3 separate regions of the Homo sapiens genome follow, and regions 2 and 3 are each linked to region 1. The links come from fine-mapping of genetic effects on gene expression. A gene starts in region 1. Each other region holds a variant in brackets. All regions are shown on one strand. Distances are between the middles of the regions.

Region 1 (6,892 bases):
TGCCAATCATCCAACATATCCTGAAGTATAAAACTGCAAAGTGGAATAGAGAGAGCATGAACACTGGAATAGACAGATGGGAAATGAGGAAGATGAAATGTGCATCTGGGTGTTAAGTCTCACCCTTTGAAAGCCGCTTCTCCATAGCACCTGCCTGCTGCCTTAGAGAGGCAGAGAACCCACCTGTGCCAGGCGGGCGCAAGAGGACACTTTACCTGGCCCTCTGCCAACTTTGGCCCCTCCCCCCATTTCCTTTCCCTGCCAAAGTTTTCTTTTTTTCTTTTCCTTTTTTTTTGTGACAGGGTCTTACTCTGTCATCTAGGCTGGAGTGCAGTGGTGTGATCTTGGCTCACTGCAACCTCTACCTCCTGGGCTCAGGTGATTCTCCCACCTCAGCTTCCCAAATAGCTAGGACTATAGGTGCACACCACCATGTCTGGCTAATTTTTTGTATTTTTTTTGGTAGAGACGGGGTTTCCCATGTTGCCCAGGCTGGTCTTGAACTCCTGAATTCAGGCAATCTGCCCACCTCGGCCTCCCAAAATGCTAGAATTACAGGCATAAGCCCCGCCCTCGGCCTCCCTGCCAAAGTGTTCTAACGTGCATGTACCTGCCCTCTCCCTTTGATATCCAGCAACCTATTGCATCACCAGGGTGCTCCAGGTCACCTGGGAGCCCTCTGCCACCAGACAGAAGAGCCTCACCCCAGCCTCATCCTCCTTGACTCTTCCTGCAGAGAACTCTACGCAAATGCCCACTGGAAGCTTTCTGTGCTCTTAGCTTAGAGAGACAATGTCCTCTGCTGATTCTCCTGCCTCTCTGACCATTCCTTCGGAATGTCCTTCTCTCTCCTTTGTCAAGGCTGTACCCCAGCCCCTGTCCGATTTTCTATTCTCTTCTTTAGAGACTTCATCTACAACCCCTTTGCTGACAACTCCCAAATCTCAATTCTTTCTCTCCAGTTGCTACAGGGCACTTCTAATTGGAGGTTGTGCTGTCCCCGCTTGACCTTCCTGTCTTTCCAGCTGTATGGTCCTATAGCAACTTCCCTCTGGCCGGCCCTTGGTGCCTCATTTCTGGAGCACTGCAGACATCCTGGGCTGTTCCAGCAACAGGCCGCGGCCCCTGCAGCCCAGTCGGCAGGCAGACCCAGCTCCCTAACACAGCTCTCAACAGTGGCCTGCCTGCGTGAACCCTCCAAGCGTTCCTCCATCTCCCCCCAAGTCTGGTTCAGGCTCCTCTGCAGCTCTTGGGGCCTCTCTTACCTGGCCCCTTGCCCTCAGTCCAGTCTTATTTCCCACTTGTCTGCACAATGTCTGCAGGCACCGTTCCTTCTTTCCTCACTAGCAGTGTCCTGCCCACTGTCCTCCATCCACCAAGTCACAGTCAAACCCGCAGCACCTGTGGCCCTTCAGCCTTCACTCACAATGTATCTTCCCAATTAACAATCCTGCTAGGACAGGAATAAGCTCTTAAACTTCTCCCTCTGCCCACAGCATATAGCACCAGTCCTTACTAACCCATGCACTAACCGTGCCGCACGCAGAGTGACAGAGCCCTGTCCCTCACCTGCCATCTACTGATGTCCAAGCTGGGCTTCTGGAAGGACAGGCCTCTGAGCCCAAGCGAGACCTACGAGTTTTCCTAATTTTAACTTACTCAGTTCTTATTTCACCTACTCTATTCAACCTGCACAAGTTAGTACCTACCATTTCAGATTTTGGCATGGAACTGAATTATGACTGATGCAACAGGAAGTGTAAACGTTCTGCAGTCTCTTTGGGACCAAGCTCATTCTTGGGTTAGATGATCCATTTTATATATTCTAATTTATTGCTTCCCACTCGTTATTTGGCGCATCTTTACTTACTTTACTCCATGGGTATAAAATGCGAACCATTAACAGCATTTATACGTGTATGGCCTGGAAAAGTTACAAACTCATAGATCTATGTGTTTCTCCGACTGCGCTATTTTCTCCTAACTCTTGGTGTCTTTCTGATGTAGAATAAATACTGATTTCCTTAGTCCTGTAGCAAGTTAACAAGCCTGTAACGTGACAGATCTGTATCCCAGGGGCTGATCATAGAGAAACCACAAAGCGATGTTTTAGCTGCGTCGAGTCCTCAACACGGGGGACTTCCAGCCTGGTACCAGGATAGCCTCTCTGGCCCAGTGTGAGCGAAGGTTCGAGCTGACTTGCCAGTCCCGTGCTAAGTCTCACTGAGGCAGGGCCTTGCTGCCGCGGAAAAACGTGTGGACAGAGGAACGCGCCGGTCGGATGTGGGCCACAGTGAGCCGCGGCGTGGAAACGGCCGAAATGTGCGGGCGCGTTGTCCATGTTTGGTCGTGGAGCTGCCCGCGGGCGCGGGAACAGCGCGTCGGGGGCGGGTGGGCTTGGGTGTCCGTGGCGGAGGTTACCCCGGGCCCCACGCGCCCGCTCTCTCCCGGCCTTGGTCTTTGTCCCCGCGCCCCCGCAAGGGCCGCCCGCCGCGCCCCGCAGCCCCTGAGCCCCCGTGCGCGGAGGCGGGGCCTGGCCAAGGGGACAGCGGGCGGCAGACGCGCCCCTGCGGCTCCCAGGCCGCCCGGGCCGCGCTCCCCGCGGGGAAAGAGGCCGCAGGCGCGGGGAGGCTCGGCCCCGCCCCGCCACGTCCCCCTCCCGGCCCGGGCCCCGCGGCCGCCGAGGCCGCCCCCTCGCGGGCGGAGCGGGCGCTGGGCTCGCGCGGCTGCGGCGGCGGCGGCGGGCCCGGGGTTGCCATGGTAACCGGCAGCAGCAGCCGCCACAGCAGGGCCGGCCCCAGCGCCAGCGCCGGTCGCGGTCGGGCTCAGCTCAGTGTGTGGTGAGCGGCGGCGGCGCGGCCGGGCCGGGGAGCGGGCGCGGCCCGGCGGCCTCAGCATGGAGGACGGCTTCTCCAGCTACAGCAGCCTGTACGACACGTCCTCGCTGCTCCAGTTCTGCAACGGTGAGGGGCGGCCGCGCGGGGCCGGGGCGGCGAGCGGCTGGTGGCGGGCGGCGGCGACGGCGACGGCGGGGACCAAGCCGAGGGGCCGAGGCCCGGCGGCCGCGGGCGAGGCCGCGCAAAGTTGTTGCGGAGGGGCGCGCGGTCCCCGTTCCCGCCGCCGGCGCATTGTGTTGGAGCCGCGGGGCCGCGCCTCGCTCCGGGCCGCCCCGGGCTCCCCGCCGCCACCCCGGCTCCCGGCACTGGCGCGCGGACCCCGCCGGCTCCAGCACCCGCGGAGCGCGCCCGGGCGGAGGCGCGTGGGGCACAGGGCGGCGGGGAGGCCCGGGCAGCCTCCGCGTTCCGGGGAACGTGTTGCTTTTTTGCTTCCCGACCCACATCTGTTTGGAAATGACTGGATGAAGAACTCGGGAAACAAATCCTTTAATAACAAAACCCTCCTGCGAGGATGCACGCAGTGTTTGGACCCCCAGAACCCATTCAGGTCTACTTTAATGAAATCATCACAATTTAATACAATCTAGAGCTTTTTAAATGGAAAGCCAAAGTGGACCTGGCCTCAGTGTTGCTTCTTATTTTGTTTATGGGATAATGGATTCTTTTTTCTTTTTTTGTTTTTGCAATTTTACAGGAAGGAAACATTCATATCCACCAATATGGCATCTTTTTAAAAATATGAAATCCTACATGCTTGAAAGATTTCAGTCTCATTGGCAGGGTTGAAAAAGATTTTCATAGCACACTGAATATTTTATCAGAACATGATGTGTGATAATTCACGCACAAAAGTTAACCACACTTTTTTTTTTTTTTACATGTTGGATTTATTGCTCCATCAAAGGGCCCCAAAAGTTTGTTAATGGGAAAAAAAAATGTGTATTTGATAGAATTTGCTTAAGTGCAGTCGGAATAATTTTGAATTCTAGACCCTTTGACAACTGGAGCAATTTATTTTGCTATTGTATTGTGATTTAGGGAAAGTTTTCTTGTTATTCGACACCTGTTTGTCACTGTAGCAGTAAAGAGTAATGAGTGTGTTGATTCATCCTCTGTAGTGGTATTTTTTATCTCTGGTGAAATTTATCATCTTGTTCATGGTAGAATGTATACTCTGATAGCTTTTGCAGCTTATACTTTACATCTGAACCATTTGTGGGCCTTCATGAATTTAGTAATTCCCTCTTCAGTGGAATTAAAGAAAGTTTCTGCTTTTTCTCTGAATTTAACGCCAGTTTCCAAGAGCAGAACACCTGTGTTTTTGAGCCTCAGAAGGTGTTGAGGGCAGGTAGAATGTATTTGGTATGCTGGTGGTCCCTGGAATACTTTATAGTATAGAGTCATGGGAACGGTTTTGCTCTCCAGTAGGTTAAATAGATTCCTCAATTAACATTTTGAATAGGTTCCTTAATTGACTTATAATCAATCATATTTGAATTATTGTTTTTGATCTAAAAAGTAGTTATATGCTTATGGTAGAATTCTCCCTATGCTTAGTTGGAAAGATATGTGGCTGAAATTTGTATTAAATGACTTTGAGGCATCAGGTCTTACAAATTTAATCTGTGGGCGTATTATTGACAGCTTGATTTGCGATATGAAAATGAGCCTAGATATTTTTATTGGAGCAGTTGTTTGGGGCCTGGTCATACTGTTCCTAAATAGCAGTTTAGTCATGAAGTTGACCTACACGTCTGTTCATGAATGTTTTCGTTTTCTGCATTTTCCTTTTAATTGCCAGCCTAGAGATATTGGCATGGTATTTTACTGGTGGTGATGTCCAGAAGAAAGTAAAAACCAACTCTTATATTTTGTAGAAGTATTGGTTTAAAGAAAAACCACCTTAACTAGAATCAAACAATAAGATCACTTTATAACTATTGAATTACTTTTCTCAAAAAGTTCTCAGCTCTGTATTTGTTATTTTTTTTTTAGGTTGTCTAATGAATAAAGTTTAAAGCAAGAGTGGCCTATGGGGCAGAAGTCAATGTTAACTGGTGATGTCTTAGGCAACAGATGTTTTGATGTGAAACATTTTAAGAGGCTTTCATTAAGTGAAGATATAAATGAATACAAGTCAGTTAATTACTATGATGATTCAATTAAAGCAGTGGATCACAGAAATGCCATTTCACTAGGAACTAAATTAAACATTTGGATATTTCATTAGCTACATTGGCAAACAATTTTTTCTTTTTAAATGAGAGACTTACATTACAATGGCAAGACAGCAGCATAATACATGAACTCATACATTTTCATATGTTCAGTATGCGTCATGCTGTTAATAGTGACAGAAACTAAAAAATCATGGTTACAGCTTTAGAAAATATAATTCACACATATTATTTGGATGACTGTCATAGTTAATTTCCTTCTGGTCAAATAAAGACAAGATCAAGATATGCGAAGTTGAGGCGGGAGGATTACTTGCAGCCAAGAGTTTGAGAGCAGCCTGGGCAACATAGCAAGACCCCCCTCTACAAAAAATTTTTAAAAGTTGGCTGGGCATGGTGGCTTGAACCTGTAATCCTAGCTACTCAGGAGGCTGAGATGGGAGGATTGATTGAGCCCAGAAGTTTGAAGCTGCAGTGAGCTATGACTGTGCCACTGTACTACAGCCTGGGTGACAAAGTGAGACCCTGTCTCAGAGAGAGAGAGAGAGAGAGAGAGAGAGAGAGAGAGAGAGAGAGAAGATAATGTGTAAATGAGAAGGGAGAAAGAGAAAAGTTTGTTCTAATGAATGAAATTTCTGTCTTCTCTTATACTTCTTTCTTGGTGTCTCTCCTCATAATTTGTAGTGGACATTAAATGCAAAGTTAGGCAGTATCTAGCCTCCTGAAAAGGCTCATCCTCATCTTTCAGGAACTGTCTTTCTCATTTAAGCAGAAAATGTGTGCATTGTTTTCTTCAGAGTATTTGAAATCTGTAAAGTGAGCTAGAAATCACAAGCTTTTTTTTTTTTTTTTCTTTGAGCCACACCTTGCTCTGTGACCCAGGTTGGAGTGCAGTGGCATGATCACAGCTCACTGCAGACTCAAACTCCTGGGGCTCAAGCAGTCCTACCTCAGTCTCTCAAGTAGCTGGGACTACAGGTGCGTGCTATCATGCCCAGCTCACAAACTTCTTTTAATGCTGGGAAAAAAAAAAAACCTGAAGTGTTTTAAAAAGTGAACAGTAGCTATCCTTTATAAGACAATTTATGATTTGGGAAATAACTCCATATTTTCTTCGAGGCCTCATTTTGAAGTAGGTGGTGTTACCATCCTTCCTTTGTGCCTGAGAAAACGGAGGCTCGAAGAGATTTGGCAACTTTATCAGGCCACAGAACTAGGAAGGGCTTGGATACCAGTCTAAATCTTTGTGTGTGTATGTGTGTGTGTGTGTGTGTGTGTGTGTGAGAGAGTAATAGCTTTATTGAAATATTTACATACCATAAAAATGTGTTTTTAAAGTGTACCATTAAGTGCGTGTAGTATATTCACAGAATTGTCCAGTTGTTACCACTCTCTGATTTTAGAACCTTTGCATTACTCCAGAAGAAACCCTAGTACCTACTAGCAGTCACTCCATGTTCCCCCATCGCCCTCACCCCTGGCAACCATTAATCTACTTTCTGTCTTTATAGATTCTGGGCATTTTATTTAAATGGAATTATAGAATGTTTGGTATTTTGTTCCTGGCTTCTTTCACTTAGCATATGTTTTAAGGTTCATCCATGTTGTAGCCTGTGTCATCATGCCATTCCTTTTTATGGCCAAATTATATTCCCTTGTGGAGAGATACCACACTGTTTAAATCTGTTACTTGTTGATGGGTTATTTGGGTTATTTCCACTTTTTGACTCTTATCAATAATGCTACTATGGGCACTCACATGCACATTTTTGTGTGGACCTATGTTTTCATTTCTCTTGGGCAGATATCTAGGAGCAG
Region 2 (6,892 bases), 26 kb before region 1:
CGGCTCAGAGAGGCTAAGCGATTTGCCCAAGGTCACGCAGATAGTGCCAGGTGGGGCTGGAATTCAGCTGCCCTGTTCAGCCTCCACTCCACTTCCCTGGCCACCGTCCTGGCCGAGGCAGAGCCCTGGGTTGGTCTTCCCCACTGAAGTCTCCCTGGGTGATGTGCATTTCTGACAAGCTCCCAGGTTTAGCGGATGCTGCTGGTCTCAAGAGCAGGCTTTCAGCAGCGAGCTCTGTACATTCACAGTCTAGTGGAGCATGCAGGTTGGCGAACAGATGAAGGCCAAGGAGCGTCAGGGCAGGCTTCCTGGAAGTGCCGCTGCAAGGAGAGAAGGAGGTGGCTGAGAAGGAAAGGGGAGACAAGTCCCAAATTCCAGCCCAGGCACAGAAGCAGCAGGGTGGGCTCCACATGGCCACTGAACCACAGGAGCTTGGAGCAGGATGTGATACAGTTTCTTGATAGACTTTTGGCATGGCCAGGACTGGATCCAAGTCAGTGTATAGGGACACCCAAACCGCTGTCCTGCCCGTTCCTCAGTCAGTGTTGTTTTTTTTACTATAGCAAAATATATAACAAAATTTACTATCTTAATCGTTTTTGTTGTTGTTGGTGTTGTTGTTGTTGTCGTTTTTAGAGACAGGGTCTTACTCTGTTGCCCAAGCTGGAGCGCAGTGGAACAATCATGGCTCACTGCAGCCTCAACCTCCTGGGCTCAAATGATCCTCCCACCTCAGCCTCCCGAGTAGCCAGGACCACAGGCGAATGCCACCATGCACAGCTAATTTTTTTTCTTTAATTTGTAGAGGTGGGGTCTTCTTATGTTGCCCAGGCTGGTGTCGAATTCCTGGGCTCAAGTAATCCTCCAGTCTCGGCCTCCCAAAGTGCTGGGATTACAGGCGTGTAAGATAGGCATGCCCAGCCCGTCTTAACCATTTTAAGTGTACAGTTGAGTGGCATTAGTCCATTCACATAGTTGTACAATCCTCACTCCCATCCATCTCCACAGCCCATTTCATCTTGCCAAGCGGAAACTCTGTGCCCACTGAACAATAACCTCCCCCCACCACGCCAGGCCCCTGGCTACCACCAATCTACTTTCTGTCTCTATGAATTTGACTGCTCTAGGTACATCATGTGAGTGTAATCATATAGTATTTGTCCTTTTATTTCCGGTTTATTTCATTTATATATCCTCAAGTCAAGGTTCCTCCGTGTTGTAACGTGTCAAAATTTTCTTCCTTTAAAGTTAAAAATATTACATTGTATAGATTTACCGCACTATATATATATATATTTTTTGAGACAGAGTCTGGCTCTTTCGCCCAGGCTGGAGTTGCAGTGATGCAATGTGGGCTCACTGCAACCTCTGCCTCCTAGGCGCAGGTGATTCTCATGCCTCAGCCTCTCGAGTAGCTGGGATTACAGGCGTGCACCACCACGCCTGGCTAATTTTTGTATTTTTAGTAGAGACATGGTTTCCACATGTTTATCAGGCTGCTCTTGAACCCCCTGCCTCAAGTATCTGCTTGTCTTGGCCTCCCAAAGTGCTGGAATTACAGGCATGAGCCACCGTGGCTGGCCTGGATTAATGGTTAATAATTAAAGGTTAATAAAATGGTTACCACATTTTATTTACTACTTACACATTCATGGCTAACGATTAATGGTTAATAAAATGATTACTACATTTTATTTACTACTTACCCATTCATCCATCAATGAACACTTAGGCTGTTTCCACCTTTTGTCGATTGTGAATGATGCTACTAGGAAAATGGGTGTGCAAACACCTATCTGAGTCTCTGCTTTCTATTCTTTTGGGGGTAGACTCAGAAGTGCAATTGTTGGATCACATGGAAATTAAACTTTTACTTTTTTTTTTTTTTTTTTGAGACAGAGTCTCACTCTGTTGCCCAGGCTGGAGTGCAGTGGTGTGATCTTGGCTCACTGCAACCTCTGCCTTGTGGGTTCAAGCAATTCTCCTGCCTCAGCCTCCTGAGTAGCTGGGATTACAGGTGCCCACCACCATGCCAGCTAATTTTTGTATTTTTAGTAGAGACAGGGTTTCACTATGTTGGCCAGGCTGGTCTCGAACTCCTGATCTTAGGGGATCCACCCACCTCTGCCTCCCAAATTGCTGGGATTACAGGCGTGAGCCACCATGTCCGGCCTAATTTTTAATGTTTTTGAAGACCTCAGTTGGTATGTTTCTATCACACATAGACCAACTAGCAATTTTAGGGGGGCTTCCCAACAGCAGCTGAGGAAGACTATTGTATTCCAGCATTAGTTAATGTCAAATGAACAGCTCCACCATTCTAGTCTTAAAAACCAGGTTTGAACTCTTCACCATTGAATTTCTCTTGGAAAATGTTAAATGTCCGCCCAAATCAACATCAATAATTTGTTTCACTTGGCAAGGATAAATGTTTAAAATTTAACGAAGCCAGCTGATTTCCACAATCCCAGGTTGCCAAGCAGCAATCATGGTAATAAATGACCAATGCTTTTCTTGTAAGAAAAATGTTTGCATGGAGAGAGAGGGTCGGCCGCTAATGGAGAGAGGCTGGCCACCGGGCTTCTATAGGAAGCAAAGTGCAATCCATCATCCTGGAGTGTTGGCTTTGAAAATGCAGCGTGTCCACTGGGAGTCACCGTTTTCCAAAGGTCCTCTTGCTGGCCCTGCTGAATCACAGTCCCATAATTCCCCCACCGCATAATATTTTTCCATCGCCATGGTGACTGTGTGAGAAGAAGGCA[C/T]GGTGAGAAACTTCAGGGATTACTTCTTATTTCACGGAAACGAGATTTGACTTCTGCTAAAAAGTGGGCTACAAATTTCTATTTTAAGGAGAAGAGCTGGGTTCCATGAACCAGAGCTTACTATAGCCGAGAGGGAGCATGGGTCAGGTCTGGTCCTGGTTCCAGCACTTGCTAGTCATTGACTTTGGGCAAGACTATTTCTCTCCAAGCCTCAGTTCTTTTCTCTGTAAAACGGCATTGGCCGGGCACGGTGGCTCACGCCTGTAATCCCAACACTTTGGGAGGCCAAGGCGGGCAGATCATAAGGTCAGGATATGGCGACCATCCTGGCCAACATGGTGAAGCCCCAACTCTACTAAAAATACAAAAATTAGCTGGGTGTGGTGGCACGCACCTGTAGGCCCTGCTACTCGGGAGTCTGAGGCAGGAGAATCGCTTGAACCCAGGAAGCGGAGAGGCGGAGGTTGCAGCGAGCTGAGATCACGCCACTGCACTCCATCCTGGTGACAGAGTGAGACTCCATCTCAAGAAAAAAAAGAGGGGGATGGAGAATGGGAATTAGGGTTCTCTGTGGGATCCTTTGAAAAAAATGCAAGACATTTACAAATTGTGAGACCCTTTTCAAAAAACAAAAGCCAAATACAAGCCCCCCCTTATTTCAGGCCAAGGTGCTGTTGCAGGTGGCTTTGTCTTGCATTACTGTTGGCTGCTTTCCTCAAGGCCTCCCCCAAGTCCCCTCATTCACATACACATCTGTCACCTTCAACAAGACAGGGATTTCGCCATGAGCTTCAAGGAGACAGAGACTTTGTCTTATATTTATTCTGAACACCCCCCACACTACTTTGCTGAGCACACAACTATACTCAGAGCTGGCCTCAAGAAATCCTTGAATTCAAATTCAGATCCAGTAAATGCTTGCCAGGTCCCATCTGCCTTGGGCTGGTGGGCACAGGGTAAATCAGGTGGAAGAGGCCAAGTCACCCTGATTTGAAGTCACTCCTTCGACTTCCCAGTGGCTTCTCCCAGAGATGGGGCACGGAGAAGTGATCCCACACGAAGGGTGCACATTGAATGTAAGATTCATCCCAATTCCAGAAAGCTTCGAAAGCATAAAGGTGTGTCTTAGAGCGGAGGAAATCCAGCCATTACAATGCCACGTGCTAAGTGAAATTCTCAAGGGTGTGCTATTCTTAGACGTGACCCAGGGGAGGGAGGAACTCATTCTTCATGGTGGAGTGGTGAGATGGGGTCTCTGAGGGTCTCACGGAGCCGCTGTCTGAGCTGGGGTGGTGACGTCTGTGGCAGGAAGGATTGTGGGGTTGATGGAGCTGCCTCGGAGGAAGAGGGTCCAAAATGGCCAAAGGAACTCGGGCACAGGCGCAGAGACACAGAGCAGCATGATATGGCTCACGGAACTATCAGTCACTCCACATGGCTGGAATATAGCAAAGGGAGGAGGTGGGGGTAAGGCAGACAGGCCCAGGGCCAGGAGTGGCCATCTCTGTGACAGCACGGGATTACTGGGCACAAAGATGGGCGGAGCTTCAACTGTGTGACTCTTGCACCAGAACAGCTGGGGAAAGGGGAAGGTAGAGATGCATTCCAACAATCCCCAGGGCTGCTTCTGTGGTCTTTTTTTTTTTTTTTTTCTCAGATGGAGTCTCCCTTTGTCATCAGGCTGGAGGGCAGTGGCACAATCTTGGCTCACTGCAACCTCTGCCTCCCAGGTTCAAGTGATTGTCCTGCCTCAGCCTCCTGAGTAGCTGGGATTACAGGCACCCGCCACCATGCCTGTCTAATTTTTGTATTTTTAGTAGAGTTGGTGTTTTACCATGTTGGCCATGCTGGTCTCAAACTCCTGACCTCAGATGATCTGCCTGCCTTGGCCTCCCAAAGTGCTGGGATTACAGGCGTAAGCCACCACGCCTGGCCTGCTTGTATATTATTTTTGACAGCAGTTTGGGGATCCAGGGTGACCCAAACTGGTATTGGTTGGTGGTTTCGATGTGGGTTTGAGGTTACCAAGAACTACAGACCCCTCTACCTAGTAGGGGAACCAACTGGAAGGCTCCCTGTCTGGTCCTCCTTTCTCAGCCAGCCTCTGAGCCCCACATTTGCTAGTGACTCTGAGCAGCGTGGCCATCTCCTCGGTCAAGTCAGCCCACCAGCGGTTTTGCAGCAGGTGCTGAGCACTCGGGGAGCTGGGGTGTCAGCACACAGACAGGGAGCACTGTTCCAAGGATCATTTTCTCCCATCACAGGGCCCTCACCGTGGGCACCAGCAGGAGGTGGCCCTTTGGAAGTGGAAGCACACAGCCCTTCAAGGCTTGTCCTCAGTAGGCAGTGCTGGCCCCAGCCCTGAGTAACCTTGGCCTCCCCCACAGTGGGCAGGGACGCAAGCTCCTCTCCATTTCCAGGGATCCCATTCTCCCCAGGGCCATGCATTTAGAGCAGACAGGTCAGTTTCAATGGTTTGTCAATCTGATATCACTTCTTTCTGAGACCTGACAACTAGTTCAGGGTGATGGTCACTATCAAGTCTCTGCAGTACCTGCCCCTACACTTGAGAAATCAGTCACATGAGTTTCAGCATCAGGACAAATGTCATGATGGCTTCCAGATGTACCTGCCTTTAATGCTCAGGTTTTCTCAGGACACCACTTAAATGTAGGGACAATTCCTCCGAGGCTACATTCCCATGAGGAGCTGGCTGAGAAGTGGGCAGCAATCAGCACCAGCAGATCCTCCTTATCTTGTTCTTGCTCCTCTTTCCTCCTTTTCTTGGGAATAGAAATGGGTTCTGCTGAGCTTGGTCTGGCCCAGTTCACCCCTCCAACCACATTCCCTACCAGTCCCTTCTGTCCCCTGCAAGTTCCAGCCACCTGATGGCCCATACATGCCAGCACAAACGTTCCCGCCTCTTTACTTTGCTCACTTTGCTTTTCTCTCCTTGTCCACCGGGTTTTGATGACACTTAACCTTTGTACCATTCCCCCCCATTTCCCCTAAGATAGTGGAATGACCCTCCTCTGTCCTCCTATGATCATCAGAGCTGTGTTTGTCAGTTTGGGCTACTATAAAAGAATATCATAGACTTGGTGGATAAAACAAGAGACATTTATTGCTCACAGTTCTGGAGGCTGGGAAGTCCAAGATCAAAGTGCTGGCAGATCTGGTGTCTGGGGAGGGCTGTCTTCCTGGTTCACAGACAATTGTCTTCTTCTTGTATTCTCACATGGTGGAAAGCAAAGAAAGACGAAGCAAGCTCTCGTGTCTTTTTAAAAAATTTCTTTCTATCTATCTATCTATCTATCTATCTATCTTTTTTATTTTGACCTGCATGAAGAGAGATCATGTCTTTTTTTAAGGAAATAAATTCATTCATGTGGGTTCCACTCTTATGATCTAATCACCTCCCAAAGGCTCACCTCGAAATTCCACCATTTCATTAGCATTTCAACACATGAATTTTGGGAGGACACAAATGTTCAGTCCATAGTATCAGCTCAGTTACTTTACCTCCCTGGGCCTCATTTTCTCCATTTGTAAAACAGGGATGTTCCTATCACCTGGCGAAGTAACAAGAATTATTGAACTGTGACATATGCTGAACACAGGGCCTTGAACATAGTAGGTGCTCAAGAAACATTAATTTCTTCCCTTTCTTACTCTTCCTTACAGCAGTTTCCGCTGATTTTTTTTTTTTTTTTTTTTTTTGAGACGGAGTCTCGCTCTGTTGTCCAGGCTGGAGTGCAGTGGCGCGATCTCGGCTCAGTGCAAGCTCCGCCTCCCGGGTTCACGCCATTCGCCTGCCTCAGCCTCCCGAGTAGCTGGGACTACAGGCGCCCGCCACTACGCCCAGCTAATTTTTTGTATTTTTAGTAGAGATGGGGTTTCACCACGTTAGCCAGGATGGTCTTGATCTCCTGACCTCGTGATCCGTCCGCCTCAGCCTCCCAAAGTGCTGGGATTACAGGCGTGAGCCACCGCGCCCGGCCTCCCACTGATATTATAATGATCAGTATCTGTCTCACCCACTAGATGCTGACTTTTGCAGAGTCAATGGCTGAGATGTCTTACCTTTTTATTTATTAGAGTATATTTTTTGTCACCCTGAAAAAAGACCC
Region 3 (6,892 bases), 56 kb before region 1:
CCCAGAGCAAGGGTGACAGGAGTTGAGACCCGAGATGTGGCCACAGGCCCTGCCTGGCATTGACCCATGGGCCTGGGTGTGCCAGACAGCAGGCACTGAGAGGGGCCACAGTGTGTGAAGCCCATACAGCGGGGTGGGACCTAGGAGACAGGTCAGCCCCCAGTCCATGCCTCCCATTCCCTCCAGTGCCTGACACCAGCTGCCGCGCCAAGGCAAAGCAGAGGTGCCCAGCGAGGGACTCACGCCAGTCCTTCCCTGGTCACACCCCCTCCCCGGGGATACAGATGCCACCTGTGCATACCCGAAGTCTGCCAAGTGCCGCAGAGCTACCTCAGTTCAGCCCACAGCCGGGCAGGCGGGGCTCCTCCCACTTTGCAGGGGAAGACACTGGGCTTCTGTCTTTGCTGACCTGCACCCGATTTTCTCCCTGCCGCGCCCTCACCCCAGCCCAAGGCACAGAGCACCGTGGTTCCACCTCCGCCCCTCCCCCAGAGTTGTCCTGGAATCACACCTAGGGGATGCGGAGGGACGAGGGGAATTTTCGGGGTGGAGGAGACAGTTCCAGGGGAGGTCTGGCTTTGTCTTTCTCTTTTTTCTCTTAAAATTAAATTTTCAGTTAGGAGGAAAGAAAACTTCAGTTAGGAGGGACCCAAGATGGCCACCAGTCCTGGTTTGTCTGAAGCTGGTGGGGGGTCAGTTTCCAGGATCCATGGAGGACATTCAGGGCTAAAACAGGGGAAGTCCCAGGGAAACGGGACAAGTTGGTCACCTGGGAGGGACCCCACAGCCATTTAACCCTACATGATGCTTGAGCTCCCTCCGCTGTGTCCCCGCCCAGCAGCTGCGCAGCCCTGCTTGAATACCATCAGTGATGGTGAGTTCATTATCTGACAGGGCAGCAAGAGCCAACCAAGAGGGGGACACAGCCAGGACTAGGCACTGACCACAGTGAGGTCGGAGTTGGCAGAGTGGAGTGTGGGGCAAGGGAAAATGGAGCAGGGCCCCTGAGCTGCCTTTAGGGGCAGCCACAGCTTCCCACGGAAAGAGGAGGACAGAGAATTCCTAGGCCAAGGGAACAGCACAGGCAAATGCCTATACCATAGAGATTGAGTTCTTTCTCTCCGATGGCCAGTGCAGGGGTGAAGCGTGGAGGCTGTGACTTCACAGCCTTCTTCCCCACCCCACCCACAGATAGGGCTTCCTTTGGAAACATGGAGGCCTCGTCCTCCTGCCTTCACTCCCCAGGTCCCTGAGCCAGAAAAGGCCTCAGTGCAGATGGAAGAGCTGCCAGGATGCCCCAGCACGCTGCTCCACCCGCCTCTCATTTTCCTGAGGCTCATTAGTCCTCAGCACCAGCATCTGCCCCCTCCTCCAGGAAGCCTCCTCTGACTTCCCCAGCCCTGAGGCCTCCCCTGCCATAAGCATCATCCTTCTTCTCAGGCTTGCTGCCACCTCCAGCCCTGCCAGCGACCCCTGCCACCTCTAGCCCTGCCAGAGACCCCTGTAACTCTTCAGCCGGGCTTTCTCACCTCCACACCTGCTGGCTTCTCTTCCTAGAACACCCTCTATTCCCTTCAAAAAACTTTCTGGGCTGGGTGCGGTGGCTCATGCCTGTAATCCCAGCACTTTGGGAGGCCGAGGCACTTGGGGATCACTTGAGGTCAGGAGTTCAAGATCAGCTTGGCCAAACGTGGTGAAACCTTGTCTCTACTAAAAGTACAAAAATTAGCCGGGCATGGTGGCAGGTGCCTGTAATCCTAGCAACTCAGGAGGCTGAGGCAGGAGAATTGCTTGAACCTGGGAAGCGGAGGTTGCAGTGAGCCGAGATGGCGCCACTTGTACTCCAGCTGGGCAACAGCAAGACTCCATCTAAAAAAAAAAAAAAAAAAAAAAAAAAAAAAAACTTTCTGGGCTGAGCACAGTGGCTCATGCCTGTAATCCCAGCACTTTGGGAGGCCGAAGCACAAGGATTGCTTGAGCTCGGAGTTCAAGACCACCCAGAGCAACACGGTGAGACCCCCCCCCCGCCTACAAAAAATAGCTAAGTGTGGCAGCACAGACCTGTGTTCTCAGCTAGGGAGACTGAGGCGGGAGAATCACCTGAGCCCAGGAGGTTGAGGCTGCCGTGAGCTGTGATCATACCACTGCACCCCAGAGTGACCCTGTGGCAAAAAAAAAAAAAAAAAGAAAGAAAGAACTAACTTTATTTTCACTTAAAGATAATTCAAATGCCTGCTCTTCCAGGAAGCCCTCCTGGATCTCTCAGATTGAGTTTCTCTCCCTTCTCTTTAAGCCATTTCATTCCCTCTGGTCTCTGCATACAGAACTAGGTAGACCTAGGGCCTGGGGGGCCCAGCAAAGCCCAACCCTGGGGTGATGCCTCTGGGATCTCCAGCCCTTGGCTGGTCCTGCCCTGCACTTTGTGGGGACCAGGGGAGGGGCTGGATTGGCTCTGAGCCAGGTACACAAGAGCATACTAAGAGCTTGCTGGAGTGCATTCTTTCAACCAGTTTTTCCTGAGCACCCACACTCTGCCAGGACCACATGACTGCCCCTGGGGATCCTGTCTCCATCCCCTGTCGACCCCCAACACGTGGCACACTCAGCACACAGTAGATGCCCGAAGTGCTGGCTGCTTTTGGCCAAACAATCAAAGGCAAGGGACGGCCTTCCTGCAGCCTTGGAGACAGACAGCCTGGCTCCAGATCCTGCTCACGCCCCGTACTGACCCGGTGGCTTGGGTGGGTCCCTTAACCTCTCTGTGACATGGACATGATGGTCGCAGCAGCTCTGGAGAGCAGTGAGATGACAGGGGTGGCCACACTTCACATAACTGCTGGTCCCGGGCATGTACTCAGTGGTAGCATCACTTGTTATTCTCCTTCCCTAAATGTCCGTAAACGTCCCTTGCTGGCTGGGTGGAACCGTTCCCAAGGAAAGAGTGTACAGGCATTCCCAAGTCCCCAGGAGCTGGAGTCTTGGGGACTGACCAAGCACCTAAGGGTGCAGTGGCTTCTCAAGCAACATCCTGGGGCTGCCCCAGAGAGGCCCTGGGCGGGGGAGGGCAGTGCCCAGATTTATCCACCAATCGCACAGGCTGCTGGCACTGAGCACGTTCTTATCTGCCCAGCCCAGCATGGGGGGGTGGCCAGGCCGGCCGGGGCGGGACGCTGCCTGGGGCTGGACGCGGAGGAGCCCCAAGCCCTGCTGG[G/A]TGGGTGACAGCCGCTGAGGCTCTGAGTGACCCTGCAGGCTGGTGGCCAGCCGGCCGCCCATCTTCCACACCATGTCGGACGGCGAGGGCCCCTCCGCCGGTGAGTGGCAGCGCTATATTTACCCGCTGTGGCTCCGGTTGCAGAGCCAAGGCCGCCAGTCGCCGAGGGCACTGGGGCCCCCGCAGGCTGCAGGCAGCTGTGAGCTGGACCCCCTTCCTCCTTGCCCGACGCCTGGGGGGCCTGTGCCGCTGGAAGGGGGGAGCTTGACTTTCAAAGCTGGGTTCCGCCACACCCCCTGACTGCCCAGTGTAGCCAGTGCAGGAAGCTGTGCCTGATTCAAGCTCTCCTGGGGCTGGCAGCCGGGGCCAGAGCTGACCCAGGACAGAGGGGCAGGGGCTGCGACGGGACCCATGGGTGGGCTCAGGATGCCGTGGGCCACTGGAACCGCATGCAGACGAGTGTGTGTGAACACTTAACGGCGGGGGAGAGCACACAGCTTCCGTCTGATTCCCCAAGTCTGAGACCTCTGGGCGTTCTGAGTCCCTGGTCCGGCAGCACCAGGCAGGCCCTCTGTGTGCCCTCATATCCTCTAGGTTGAAAATGGCCAGCGACACAGGCAGGCAGAAGGGCGATCAGATTCTGGGGTCTGCCCACTGCCCTTTGCTCTGCCTGAGGCCAGAGGCTGTGGTGGGGACTGGCCACCTATGTGCCTGGCTGGCTGCCCCCGGCTCCTGCCAGTTACAGAGCCAGCCTTGGCGGAATGGGGGCTGGGGACGGCCAAATCCAGGGGGACTCTGGAGTCAGGCTGTCCAGGTTCAAATTCCAGTTATTTCACCTCCAGGCTGGGTGGTCTTGGGCAGGTAGCTTAACTTCTCTGAGCCTCCGTGTCCCCAGGTAAAAATGGAGACTGTGGTCCTAACCCCCCAATGGCTGTGAAAATTAAATTTATGATATTGTGTGAAAGCGCCTGTGGGTGCCTGGGGTGCACTGAGTGCTCAGGGCCCTGCGTGCTGGCAGCAGGTGGGCACCCTGGGCAGCAGATGGGCATCCCAGGCAGCCCAGGCAGCCAGGTCTGGCCTCCTCCAGCAGGGCCTCCTTCGTAAGCCACCGATTGTCGCTGGCACGTGGATTCCTTCTCCATAAAACCCCACCTCGGAGGCTCTCGGAACTCATCAGGGTCTCCTGGGGGGTGTGGGGCAGATCGTGGGTGACAGCACCCTGCAGATACCCTGTTACTAATGAACAGTGCCAGCGCCTTGGCCTGGCTGGGTAGGATTTGGAACAGAGCAAGTGAGAGTGTGAGAGTGTGTGTGTGTGTGTGTGTGTGTGTGAGAGAGAGAGACAGAGAGAGAGAGAGAGTGTGTGTGTGTGTGTGTGTGTGTGTGTGTGTGTGTTGGGGAGGGGTACATTGACAGAAGGGGCCTGACCTCACCCTCTTCCACTGGGTGCCAGTTGTCCTGGCTGCCAGAAATTGCCCGCCGGGGCTGCGGGAGCCCCGGGAGCCAGCAGACAGCTCTTTCTGGCTGGCCCTGCCCCACACCTGACGCTAACCCGGAATAGCTCTCCCTCTCCACCAGGGACATGGCCCTGGTTTTAGCAGTTTGTAAAGCCACCCGCATGGAGATGGGTATTTCAGGAAGGCCAGGACAATATTTAGCCCGTCGGAGCAAAGGAATGGGCACTGAGCATGCACGTGTGTGCGCAGCCTGGAGGCTGGGAGGTGACGTGGGCCTCACCATCCCTTCCCCATCTAGGAGAGGGTCAGCCCAGTTGGGTTGGGAGGTGGGGCTTGGATTCCAGGCTGGCTCTGTCTGCCCTGGTGGGCAGGTGGCCCTGGGCAGGCTCCAGGCTTGGTTTTCCCATCTATAGAATGCCACGTGACGGTCTTTTGTCTCTAATATGTGGGTTTGAAGTTGAACTTGGCTGGCAGGAGTAAAGGCGGCATCTTGGTGCAGGAAGGTATATTTACTTATGGGTAGAAGGGGGTCTTCTGGAGCACACAGTGTGAAGTTCAGGCCTTTCTAGGATTCCTGCCCGGCAGCAACCAGTGGTTGCTCCAAGGACACTGCTCTGAAATATTTTCACCTGTTTTCAGTAACCGATCCCCAAGCCGTGTCGGCAGTGGGAACATTCTCAGCTCTCCACTCGTGACTGGTGTGACCTAGGGCAGACTATTCAAGGGCACTGTGCCTCAGTTTCCCCATCCATTAGGTGGGGACAATACTGGGACATTAACTCCTCAACGTGCACTAAGGATTAAATGGCTAACAGCATGTAACACACCTAAAATAACGCCAGGCTTATTGTTAGTGGTTATAGCTCTTATTATTTCACCAATACATAAGCAACCTAGAGAGGGAGATGAGGGGAGCAGAGGACCCACTGTGTCCTGGACACACTGTTTTGTTTATTACCTGGAGGTGGGGGCTATCAGCTCCACCGTGTAACTAAGAACACTGAAGCTCAGAGAGGCACATGTGAGGTCACCCAGCTGGTCAATGGCAGAGCAGGGATTCGAACCCAGTTCCTCAGACCCTGTTAGCACAGAAGCCAGGTTAGGCCCCTCTTCCCGGGAGTCCCACCTGCACACCCAAGGAGGGCGAGGCTGGCTATTTTGTGGGGCTTTTTGGCTTGCACCTGAAGAAGCAGCTCTCATTTCAGGGTTGGCTAGCTCAACATTGCCTCCAATAGCTTGCAACCTGTAGAGAAAAACATAGTGCCTTGTTAGGGTGTCAGGAAAATTCTGCAGAGCAGGAGCACAGCAGGAGGTGGCCGGCCCCTGGATTTATGGCCCTGTGCCTGGGTGGGTGAGCCGGAGCTAAGGTTACCCGGGAGTCAGCACCGTATTTATAGCAGGAACTCTCCTGCATCAAGTACCGGCCCACACACCACGGCCAGCAAAGGCGCTTCCTTTACAGTTGCCTGCATTCTAGGCTTGGCTCTGTCTCTTCGGGGCAGAGTCACGTCACCTTTCTAAGCCTCAGTTTCTTCATCTTTAAAATGGGGGGTTCGTCAATTCTCTCACTGGGTCTGGAAATAGGATCTGTAAGTGCTTGGCACCTGCCTGGCATAGATGGGGCCTCAGAAGATGCTGGCTCTACACATCCTGGGTCTGTTGATTGTCTTTTCCTGCCTTTGACCTTGTGATTTACCCATCTCCGTCCTGGCCAGAATCTGCAGGAAGAGAATCCAGGTCTCTGTGCTGTAAGCTGCACCCATGCTTGGGAAAGTTTCCAGCAAAGCAACTTTACAATCCTAAGCACCGAAGAGCAGGCTGTTCTGTTTTCAGCAGAGCAATGAATGCAGGTCCATCAGAGACCAGGGTTCAAATCCCAGCTCTACCACTCCCTAGCTCTGTGGCCTCGGGTGAGTCACTTAACTTCTGTGAGCCTCTGTGACAGATGGGCATTTGCCCTGCTGCAGCAGGTATGGTAAGGACAGGCCTCTAACCTGCAGAAGTGTTCAGCCAGCAGAGTGACCCTGTCTCTCCTCCTGTGTAACCTTCCGCCAGTCCCACTGCCCTGCTCTGGGCCACAGTCACCCTGTTCGTGTGTTGAGACATGGCTGCCCTTGCTGGTGCGTTTTGTAAGTGCGTGTGCTGGGAAGTTGTTCCCCCGTCTTTATCACCTCCCCCAATGCCCTGCAGCTTCTGATTCTCACCAAGACATTCAGCTGGGTGA

Direction of the effects. Alleles are on the strand shown, and positions count from the first base shown. SD is a standard deviation of normalised expression in the study named.
As copies of C replace T in region 2, the expression in tibial artery of the gene that starts at base 2,833 in region 1 goes down (small effect, 0.35 SD a copy in GTEx).
For the expression in skeletal muscle of the gene that starts at base 2,833 in region 1, allele A in region 3 goes with a lower level than allele G (large effect, 1.1 SD a copy in FUSION).

What was found. PIP is the estimated chance that this variant, and not a neighbour inherited with it, causes the effect.
Region 2: its variant is fine-mapped to the expression of EML1 in tibial artery (GTEx, PIP above 0.99).
Region 3: its variant is fine-mapped to the expression of EML1 in skeletal muscle (FUSION, PIP 0.95).

Annotation. Positions count from the first base shown.
Region 1 is chr14:99,790,581-99,797,472 of GRCh38, forward strand. It overlaps EML1 (EMAP like 1), which reads left to right and starts at 2,833. Exons shown (of 22, transcript NM_004434.3): 1 at 2,833-2,963. The coding sequence starts at 2,897. RefSeq lists a silencer at 2,527-3,006 and an enhancer at 2,754-3,585.
Region 2 is chr14:99,764,321-99,771,212 of GRCh38, forward strand. It overlaps a transcript of EML1 not described here. Among named protein-coding and RNA genes, the nearest start is that of EML1, 26 kb to the right of the region's middle. RefSeq lists enhancers at 3,575-4,533, 4,534-5,490. The variant C/T (reference allele first, on the strand shown) is at 2,763.
Region 3 is chr14:99,734,550-99,741,441 of GRCh38, forward strand. It overlaps a transcript of EML1 not described here. Among named protein-coding and RNA genes, the nearest start is that of CYP46A1, 54 kb to the left of the region's middle. RefSeq lists enhancers at 2,981-3,791, 4,603-5,413. The variant G/A (reference allele first, on the strand shown) is at 3,212.